Homo sapiens: one gene and its partner. The protein of the gene in region 1 interacts with the protein of each later gene in a pairwise test. Each region holds a gene or a part of one and is shown on either strand. Other genes may lie near its edges.

Region 1 (5,702 bases):
TAGGGCAGTGGTGTAGCTCACAATAGTTGCATTCCTCTCACACTCGTTTTTCTTCTAAATTTTTTTAGGAATGCCAGCCCTTAATTTGAAGACCATTTTTTAAAACTCTGTGGCTACATGTACCTCTGTGGAAAAATTGCACATTGCTACTTGGTATATTAGGTCAGCTGTAGTAGTGACTATTCTGTAATGTGTTAAGCCAGCGGAGCTTAACACAGCCCATTTCAGAGAGCTTATTTTATACAGAGAGCTCAAATCATAACCTCCGTGTTACACCGTATTTAATTAGCTTGTAAGGATATGATTAAGCCAGGATAACAAGGTGGGGCCTATATTCTATGTGTGGAAGAAGTATTCTAAGGAATATTCCGGTCCAGGCATTTGTCTTTTTTTTTTTTTTCTGTGATGGAGTCTCGCTCTGTCGCCAGGCTGGAGTGCAGTGGCACAATCTCAGCTCACTGCAACGTCCGCCTCCTGGGTTCAAGCAGTTCCCCTGCCTCAGCATCCCAAGTAGCTGGGACTACAGACGTCACCACACCCAGCTAATTTTTATATACTTTTTTTTAGTAGAGACAGGGTTTCACCATGTTGGCCAGGATGGTCTCGATCTTCTGACCTCGTGATCCGCCCGCCTCAGCCTCCCAAAGTGCTGAGATTACAGGCATGAGCCACCGCGCCTGGCCTGGTCCAGGCATTTTTCATCAATACTTACTATATTTGATTGAACTGCTTGTTGACACCTAGATTTTCCAACCTGTTTCCTGCCTCTGCTTTGCATATTCTGTTTCTTCTGCCTGGAAGACCCTTGCTGCCATTGCCTCTGTCCATTCCTTCTCCACCTGTCTTCACCTTCACCCTCAGAACACTGTGCAAGCACTGCATGCTCCAAGCCATTCATGACACACTACACTAGAGTGATGGAGGTGCCCCTTCTCCGTATACCCACTTAACATATGTAACGTGAGGGTCTCCTCCAGGCCAAAAGAATGAGAACCAGGGCATGCTGTCGTGGGAAACCAACCTCACTCAGGGATACCAGCAAGGTTCTCTTTGGAAGTGGCATTTAGGTTAAGGGCTTGAGTTGGAAATAGCCTGGAGGACAGGAGAGAAGGGCCTTCTGGCAGAAAGAGTAGCAAATATAAAAACTCATGCCCACATGTTTGAGATAAAAAGGAACATAGCTCCATTGCTTACACTTTTCTCATAGGAATGGCCATGCTGTGCCGTAGTCATTAAATGTGATGATTAGTCTCTGGTGTCATTTTCCTGAGAAAGAAAACGTGGGGGAAAAACTCCGTGTGGTTGTGACCACAAGTCTGGCCTGTGTAGTCACAGAGATTCAGTTATACTGTTCTCCATGCAATTTAGCCTGGCTTCTTAGCTCTTCTGGTCTGCAGTATCCTTATCTGTCAAATGGGTATGGCAGTTTTACTATCCGAGGCCGGGGGTGATGTGGGATCTCAGCGGCTGGTGTTCAGTAGACATTCACAGCAAGCATCTGTGCTCCTCAAACTGTGACTTCCTGAGGTGTTAAACATCTGAGCTGGATCATTTTCCATTTTGATTAGAAACCTCTTGATTGTATGAAATTGGAAGAATGGGGATGTTTATTTCCATGACAGTCTAAGATAACAAATTCAGGATGGTGGTTTCCCTACAAAATGGAGTGGGAAAGAGGAAAGCCTGAGAGGGTACATGGAAACTCTTTCTCAAATACTCAGAATGGTTATGGCTGAGTAATCTAGACTTTTCACAAGTCTATTCCTGTAAAAAATTATTCCTAGTTCAAATACATTGTATATATGTAGGCTGTTTTGCATCATCTGCAAAATGGCAGTGAGAACTCTTCCCTCTTGCTGTCAGTGATGGCTCTTTCCTCGTGCTCTCTCAAGGATGTTGTACATTGGAACGTGGATTTGCCTGTACTTTGAAAAGATCCTTGGCCTCATGTAACCAGACTTGTGACTGGACTGCAGAGATCCATTTCCCTGCTCTCCTGTCCCATGTGGCCATGGCTGCTGAGTCCTCTTTTCCCAGCAGCTTCCGGATGGTGATGCAACAGTGCCGGTCAAAGAAAACATTTCATCTGGGCATTTGTTTTTAATGTACTATAAAGTACAGCACCCACAATTCATGCAGCACCGGGTTCTCTGGTAGACGAGGGTGTAAGAAGAAATAAAGTCTTTGCCTTCTGTAAACATCCCATCTATTGGAAAGGAGGTGTTTACCTCCTCCCCCACTCCCACAGTGCCTTGCACAGGCCCAGCCCTAGCTCTTGGCACACTGGGCTAGAATTGTCCACACACATCCTCCCTCTCCGCAGACTCCCAGTCTTCCCAGGTCAGGTGCTGTCTTTGTATTCCCTCGTGCACTTTTAGGCACTTACTGTGTGTTGCGTGGCCAATTGTTGTGGTTAAAATGTCGAAACATATTTATTATGTATTAAAATTAGGGAGCTAGACAAGGGTCCTTTGATAATCCCAAAGTTGACACTTCTGCTTTAGAACTCTGTGATCTCGGTGGGAATTTCTTTGAATTTTCAGTCTTGCCCTTCATTAGTTGTCTTTAAGTTTTACAATACGTTATTGAATACTGTTGAAACTCACAGCCAGATGATTTTGTCCTTTGTTTTGTTTTGATCACTTGCAGTGGTGCTGATTACTATGATTACGGACATGGACTCAGTGAGGAGACTTATGATTCCTACGGTGAGTGACTGGCCAGAGCATGTGAAGAGAGGGAGGAGAGATGGCCGTAGAAAGACCTTAAAGATATTAATGGGAAGAGAATAAGGACATTTGGACTCTGAAACAGCAGCTTCCTGTCAATTCATTTGTGCATGTCTAGCTATTTTTAGGGCTCCTTTATTATATAAATATTTGAAGAGGACTAAAGACTTGCTGAAGATTGCATGAATCCAGATTCTGAACTTAAATTTTATGTTTGAGTTGGTCGCCGTGTGCTGATTTTCTCACAGAGTAGTTTTTCAAACTTCAGACACTTGATAGCTGGGTCTTTTTGAAGTGTCTTTGTTTCCTGACAGTGAAGGGAAATGAAGCAATTGAGACTACAGCTCTAAAGTGATTCTCCCACCTTCATCTTTATGTTTTAATTCATTTCCAATCTCAAACCCTCTGAAAAAAATTACACTGGGAGTCATTTCATAAAGGTTACAAAAGCACTGAGCCAAGGAGGAGATACAGGGTCTGTAAGCTTTACAAAGGGCAGCAGCTAAACCCCTCTTAATTCAGTGGAGCTGGTAGAGATGCTGGGGACTTCATGTCCAAAGTCTCACTATGCAGAACGATGACAGGTTTAATAATTAAAAGAATTGGCGGCAGCAACATAATGGTAGTAAGAAGAGCCCTTGCCGCAGGGCAAGGAGATCAGAGAACATGAAGCTTCAATCAGTTGCAAAGCTCTGATGAATCCCTGGTACCCGGTGCAAGTATATCAGGATTGTGGTTAATGGATGTTAGGACATTTCTCTTAACAGAACGGAAAAACCATTTTCCGGCGTTAAACCTTTTGAAGTGCATTTTGTTGTATCACCTGCCTGAAGCTGTGATGGCTGCACCTTGGATTTTTTTTTTTTTTTTTTTTTTTTTTTTTTGTTATCCGTAACAAACACTTAAGAGAAATATGTTGGTTTGCTGAATGCAGGCTACCTAAATTGATGCAAGTTAGCTTGAGGGAGTGACGTTGATTGCATGTTTTGTATCAAAAGAAGAGGTCATTTTAAGCATTTTTCCTTCACAGCTTTTTAAATTGGTCTCTGTGGACACATGGCTTTTAAATTGCTGTATGTTGCAGCAGGGATGTTAACTGTTTGATGTCCAAGACTTATAGATAACTCATTAAAAGTTATCTTCAGGCTGAACAGGTGTTTAATTTCAGGAGATAAAGATGATAGAATGTCCCTGGTTATTAATACCTTTGTTCAGTACGGATTTAGCATTATGATGAATGAAATCTGACATTATGTCGTTAAATTCATTTCATATTCATGAAGTGCTATTGAGAAGTGAAGTTCAACCCAATGCAACTTTCCTTCAGTCTTTCCGTGAAAGCGCCTGTGAAAAATGAGGTCATATTTCCCTTTCTCAGTCTGCCCCTTCCCGTTTTGCTCTCCGGTTTTCTTCTTTGTCTTCACAGATGTTTACCTATGTTTTTTCTTTGTTTTTGCTGTTGGAAGACATCTAAGTGATCCTTTTCCCATTCTCTTTTTCACTCATAAATGTCCTGATGTTTAGCAAAAGGCAGTTCTCTTTGCTACTTGAGCTTGTAAACTGTTGTTAAATGAGTAACCAAAAGGAAAGTCCTTGCGAAGTTGGTTACCATTTCAGATACAAGAACCGTTTATCTTCCCACGCTGACGAATTTTGCGAGTGAGATGATTATTTTTCCTTGTGTTTGTAATTTATTTAAGTAAATTCCTTGTTTGTTTTTCTTTTCAGTACACCAGGGGTATATATTTTCAATATGACATGTACCTTTGGTTCAGGGCTAAGTTAGAGTCTGAAAAATGAAGCCTGTGGGATTCATGGCAGTGATCTAATTGTGATTCATCTTACTGATTGTAGGGCAAGAAGAGTGGACTAACTCAAGACACAAGGCACCTTCAGCGAGGACAGCAAAGGGCGTCTACAGAGACCAGCCATATGGCAGATACTGATTGTACTGTCTGATGTTGTGAAATAGCCAATCTCCACCAGTCCTGTATACTGTTCAAAGTAATTTTTTTCTATGAACAATCCCTTTTTAAATAAATCAGAATGCTTAAAATCTGAATGGATGGAACTTAAAACTACTTTGTTGAAACATCAACCTGGGCAGAAAAAAAAAAAAAAAGACATGTAAAATTTTGTTATTTCCAGTCTGTATATGAAAAAATAGGTCATCAAAAGGAAAAAAAATAACTTTGATTAACTAGTGTTAAACAAAAAATAGGTTTACTAAATATGTTAATCTATTCTTTTAACATAAGCCTCACCTTTCATTTTAAAGGTTTCCATAGAATTTAGTTATTTTATCTTTCAGCCATATGCTAGTTTTTTTTTCTCTTGCCAACATGCGTAAAAAGGGAAGCCAATTACAAGTGCAAATAATGTGGTATTCTTTTGTAACTCAAGTCTTGAAATGTTCTGTAGTGTTAAGCAAAGTCTCCTCTTGCTTGATACTAAATAAACTTTTGAAAGAAATTTTGTGTGTGTGAGCTAACAATTTCATGGGTTTTTTTTTATTTAAAAAGGCCTTCATAAATAGTTGTAAACAGGGAAAGAATTCATTTAACAATGCTTGTCATAAAAGGGTCACACTAAACATTGTACAACTTATTTTAAAAATGGTATAAAATTAAATGTACCATTATATACTCACCATAGATTTAAATGCTGTTTAAAGAGTCCAAATGGTATCGAGCTGCTTGAGTGGCACGTTAAACTACGCAAAACCAAATCTTGTTTAAAAACTGGTTTTAAAATAACTACTGGATTTTCTGAAAAAGATGTGATCAGTTTTCATCTTGTTGAGCGTTTTTTCACTAGTGCAACTTTGGATTTTTTATGAGAATTTTGGTACCTTAATGAACACCTCGCTCCATGCTGGAAGCACTAAGCACAAAGCTTTTAAAGACTTTCTGGCTTGACTAATTGAGGTCGCACTCGCCAAGGCTGAGGATGTGTAACCCTTAAACGGTCTTC
Region 2 (5,625 bases), on another chromosome or scaffold:
GCTGGCCGGGCGTGGTGGCTGACTCCTGTAATCCCAGCACTTTGGGAGGCTGAGGCGGGTGGATCATGAGGTCAGGAGTTCGAGAGGAGCCTGGCCAACATAGTGAAACCCTGTCTCTACTACAAATACAAAAATTAGCTGGGTGTGGTGGCACACACCTGTAGTCCCAGCTATTCGGGAGGCTGACGCGGGAGAATCACTTGAACCCAGGAGGCAGAGTTTCCAGTGAGCCGAGACCATGCCACTGCACTCCAGCCTGGGTGACAGAGTGAGACTCTGTCTCAAAAAAAAAAAAAAAGTTGAGCTTTGAGCTTTCCAGCTGTGCCTATGTACGCTTTATTCCCAAGAAGGACTAGTTGTTTCTCTTGCTTAAAAAAATCTCTTCATTCTCTATATTACTATGACACTGTGTGGCATATATTTTTCTTTTTTTATTGTGGTAAAGTATATATAACATAAAGTTTACAATTTTAACCATTTTTAGGGGCACAATTCAGTGGCATTTATTCAAAATGTTGTGCAACCATCACCACCATCCATCTTCAGAACCTTTTCATCATTCCAGACGGAAACTCCATACCCATGAAACAATAACTCCCCATTCCCTTTTCCTCCAGCCCCTGACAACCACCACACTACTTTCTCTCTGAATTTCCCTATTCTTGGTATCGAATATAAGTAGAGTCATACAGTATTTGTCCTTTTGTGTCTGGCTTATTTCACTTAGCCTAATGTTCTCAAGGTTCATCCATGTTATAGCATGTATTGGAATTCCATTCCTTTTTAAGGCTGAATAATATCCCACTGTGTGTGTGTGTGTGTGTGTGTGTGTGTGTGTGTGTGTGTGTGTACACCACGTTTTATACATTCATGCACTGATGGACATTTGGGTTGCTTTCACCTTTTGGCTATTGTGAATGCTGCTGCCATGAACATTGGTATACAATGTGTGTCATATTTGAGGCTTAGCAAATGCTGCCAGGCCCTGTTTGCTTCTTCTCCTGCATGTGTGTCTTATTTCCCCAGCTAGAAGATAAGGTCCATAAGCTAGGTGTGGGTCTTACACTTCTTGGTGTTTTTCATCCTTTATTCTGTTTCTCCCAGTATCGTGCAGAAATATAAATACTTGGTGCTGATAATTACGCTAAAATTAAAAAATAAGGAAACTGTTTAGAAGTACATAGTATTTTAAAGAAGTACTTTATGTCCATATTTACATGGGGAGAGTATTTGACTTGTTTTTCCAATTTCTAAAAGTGATAGTATATTAATATGCTATCACTTTTCAAGTGTTTAATAATTTTCAAATGTTTAATAATAGAGTAACAGCCAAGAAGTATGTATGGGTCATGAGTCAGGAACATTTAAATAGATCTAGCTGATTATAAAGTAAATCTATAGAAGCCTTTTTGTTGCTGTTTTTCTCTTTTGAATCAAGGACATGAGTTCAAATACCACATTAACTCAAGAGGTAAAAGCTGTGTCCCCCATCCTAAGAAGTTGTAGGAGAGAATATGTCAAATTTCTCTTACAAAAATAGAGTCATTCTACAGTAGAGTCTTTCTATAGAGTCATTATATAAAGTGAAGATGGCTTCATATGTATGTGACGCAAATGAACCTCTCATTGGAAACCTTATATTTTATATTAAAAAAGAAGCAGTTTAATTAAAATGCAAATTTGGGATAAGTATGAATTCCTATCAGATGTATGTTGACACTTGCACTGAGGTAATTGAAGAGTGTTTTAAAGTGTATTTACTTATGTTTGCCACATATTTATTGCTTTGTTAAAGGCCAAAGTTTTGGTTTTTGGTTACATCTGAGATACATCCTGTATTAGAAGAATGTTTCTAAGTAGGCCTTTAAGGCTTTTAAAATAAATAACAAGTGTAGGAGAAGATGGTTTCTAGAAGGTGCTTTGATGAAATTTCACAAAGTTTTGTTTTTTGGTTACACTTAAGATACACCTGTATTAGAAGAATGTTCATAAGTAGGCCCTTAAGGCTTTTAAAATGACAAGTGTAGGAGAAGATTGTTTCTAGAGGGTGCTTTGATGAAATTTCACCGGCTGGCTATCTGTATATAATCAGGTGTGCCCACAGAGAAGGCAACAATGAAGCTATTCAGGCAGGGCAGCAGAAAACACAGGCAAAGCAATTGTTTACAACTCAACAACTGGGTCATTAGGAATTTTCATCTTTCGATCAGCTACCCTGGCTTTGAGTAGCCACAGCCAGCGCGTGTTTCAAAAAAGGACAAAACTCTATTTGCAAATAGCTTGCTACTAAAAAATATGTTTCTTTATTATAAAGTCCTGTTGGAATTTACTACTGCAAAGCAAACCACTCTGACTTACTCTTTTCTGTGTGCTTAGCCCTGCAATATTACCAGCTGTTAAGTAAAAATGTTCTTAGGTCAAGATGTTAAATTTGCAACTGGTTTACTTTATCGCAAGTCTCTGCTTTATTTGGGAAGCCTTTTTTTCCCTCCTTCTTCTTTTCATATAATATAAAAAGGTATCTTCAAATTTCACTGGCTTTAAAAAAAGGTATCTTCAAGTCCTTTCCATGAACTGTACCAGCAAAACAGTTCATGCACAGGTATCTGCCTCGTGCCACCCGTGGCGGTGGAGTGTGATGCGTTGTTTCATTGATGGATAATAATGCCCCCGTGCAATTTAACAAACCCTTTCTAGCCACTTCCTTTTTTCCTCTCCAGCAACTTATCCTGCCATCCGGAATTCATAGCTGGTTTCGTTTGCTTTCTAGTACAAGTTATTGGCAACCAAGTTTGCCAATGCCTCAAGTGGCTTCTTATGAAAGATTTCAATGGATAGAGGTATCTTTCACTTCAGCAATTGAATTAGCTAGCTATTGTATATGGTAACCTGATGCAACTTACTGATTGGTTCATAAGACATATTTAACACAAAATCAGCCTATGGGAAAATAGATTTCAGATATTAAAATTCCCTGTGGGTATCTGGATGGTACTATCCCTAGATAACAGCTGGGGACCTTATTTGCAGAAGAGGAGCCGGAAGACAAGCTGAGCTGATTTTCCTGTTTCTCCCTGAGCTTTGCTCTTCCAGGAGTCCCCCACCCCTCCTCCCAAAGAGGCTCTCTATTGAGATTGTTACTGCTATGAAAGCCATATGTTACAGGTTCATGTAGCCATTCTATGTTGAAGGCAAGCTTCCTTGCACAAAGCATTCCAGGAAGCCACTCTGATTTCTAGATCTTTATTTACAGGGTTTTTGTTTCATTTGCCAGTGATATAGTTCGAATTTTTTTAAAAAGGCTTGTAGTATATTATGACCCATTGAGATGCATTTGCTCTTCCAAAAAGCACGTGTACAGGTCTCTTCTGAGCACATCTGCTCCTCTTTATGCACACCAGGAAAAGATTAACTCAGCTGTTCTGTTTTCCAGATTTGACTGAAGAACGACTTGGAGACGGCAAGTCGGCAGACAATACAGAGGTCTTCAGTGACAAAGACACTGACCAGAGGAGTTCCCCAGATGTGGCAAAGAGTAAGGGCTGCTTCACCCCTGAGAGCCCTGAGATAGTGTCCGTGGAGGAAGGGGGATACGCTGTCCAGAAAAACGGAGGCAACCCCGAGAGCCGCCCTGACAGCCCCAAGTGTCACGCGGAGCAGAATCACCTCCTGATTGAGGGCCCCTCGGGGACTGTTTCTCTGCCCTTCAGCTTGAAAGCCAACAGACCGCCGCTTGAAGTGTTAAAAAAGATATTCCCCAACCAGAAGCCAACGGTGCTTGAGCTCATCCTCAAGGGCTGTGGCGGGGACCTGGTGAGCGCCGTGGAAGTCCTTCTGTCCAGCCGATCCTCAGTCACGGGAGCAGAGCGAACTTCCGCAGAACCTGAGAGTCTAGCGTTGCCCTCCAATGGGCACATCTTTGAACACACCTTGAGCTCCTACCCCATCTCGTCTTCCAAATGGTCTGTGGGATCAGCCTTTCGAGTCCCAGACACGTTGAGGTTTTCTGCCGACTCTAGCAACGTTGTCCCCAGTCCCTTGGCTGGGCCTCTGCAGCCCCCTTTCCCCCAGCCACCCCGGTACCCGCTGATGCTGAGGAATACTTTGGCGAGAAGCCAGTCGAGCCCCTTTTTGCCCAATGATGTCACCCTGTGGAACACCATGACGCTGCAGCAGCAGTATCAGCTGAGGTCCCAGTATGTCAGTCCTTTCCCCAGTAACTCTACCAGCGTCTTCAGAAGCTCGCCCGTCCTTCCTGCCCGCGCCACGGAAGACCCTCGGATTTCCATCCCTGATGATGGGTGTCCATTTGTGTCAAAGCAGTCCATTTACACCGAGGACGACTATGACGAGAGGTCTGACTCCTCAGACTCTAGAACACTCAACACATCATCTTAAAGTGGTGCTGGATGGGTGGTGGCCAGGTGACATTTTCTGTGCGTTTTGACCCTGAGGCATCTGAGGAGAGGCCACATCTTGTGTATGCCCTTTCCTTCTGTTTGACAAAGTGACTGTGCTTGATTCTATACATTAGCAATAAAAACATAACTTATTTAACTTCTTGCACTTCACTGGAAAATGCCAAATAGCTCTGTTCTGTGGCTTTAGTGCTGAATGTTTATTGTAAAAGAGAGTCTAATGTTAAGAATAGTCTTGGGAAGGCTGGGTCCGTGGAAGATTTATTTGGGGATGTAAAGCTGAAGGTCAGCCTTGCACCTAAACCCAACCTGGAATGTTAAATGAAATAATATACTTGAATGCAATTTTGTAAAAGTGGATTCCTCAGGATATGTGAAACCTAAAGGAAGTGGTTCTGTTGCAAATGGACTATAAACAGGGACATTATATTCTTACACTAAAAATCCTTGCATTTTAAAGAGAGATGCACTTAAGAATAGAGTGAACTGCTCATATGCTTATTTAAGCTTGGACAGTTTTCAGAGACAAACCCCATTAAGAATTACTCTTTTCACATGGCTGAATCGAAACATGTGTAATGTCAATGTAAAACCAATCACAGCTGTGAACTGCATGAAATGTATTGTGAAACGAACACAAGATTAAGCTTTGTCAGGTTAATGTAGCATGTTAAGGACTCTAGAAAAAAATAAACTAAGGAGACGAGCGTGGTTTATGTCATTTCTACTTGTGGAAAGAGGATCTCTAAAAATAGAAACTTGATGTAAAAATGACTTTTACTAACGCATGGGCCAGGAATCAAATTATCAGTTAAATGAGACATTCCTGAGAAATATGAATGGCAAAGTTTTAGGGTTGCATTCAGAAAGATAATTTGTTCAAAATGGAGTTAATTCTCTCCATCCATTCACTTATTCAACAGATACTTACTGAGTGCCTACTATGTGTAAGAGAATGTGCTTTCCATGTATTGTCCAAGTTACCTACCCGTGAGTCCTAGATAAGCAGATATTTTAGTGGAGAATCCCATTGAAAACAAAGTAAAAATGGAAAACTCCCAACAATGTATAGTTGAGTGTGGGAAGCAAGGAAAGTGCTTAGCCCAGTACCTGACATAGGAAGTATGCAGTCCATGAAAACTACTGCTTCTATTAATGAAATTCAGTAGCCTTGCATTCAGAATATAGACGTGCATTCCTTCATTCT

The links. The genes of interacting proteins can lie anywhere in the genome.
Region 2: the proteins of KHDRBS3 (region 1) and DMRT3 interact in binary tests that used the Homo sapiens proteins (3 or more experiments, as listed by UniProt).

Annotation. Positions count from the first base shown.
Region 1 is NC_000008.11:135,642,410-135,648,111, forward strand, and holds the end of KHDRBS3 (KH domain-containing, RNA-binding, signal transduction-associated protein 3), read left to right. Parts: intron 1-2,649; coding exon 2,650-2,708; intron 2,709-4,583; coding exon 4,584-4,675; coding exon of another isoform or gene 4,676-4,688; 3' UTR 4,689-5,201; downstream 5,202-5,702. UniProt on the Homo sapiens protein: RNA-binding protein that plays a role in the regulation of alternative splicing and influences mRNA splice site selection and exon inclusion. Binds preferentially to the 5'-[AU]UAAA-3' motif in vitro.
Region 2 is NC_000009.12:986,608-992,232, forward strand, and holds the end of DMRT3 (doublesex- and mab-3-related transcription factor 3), read left to right. Parts: intron 1-3,433; coding exon 3,434-4,398; 3' UTR 4,399-5,125; downstream 5,126-5,625. UniProt on the Homo sapiens protein: Probable transcription factor that plays a role in configuring the spinal circuits controlling stride in vertebrates.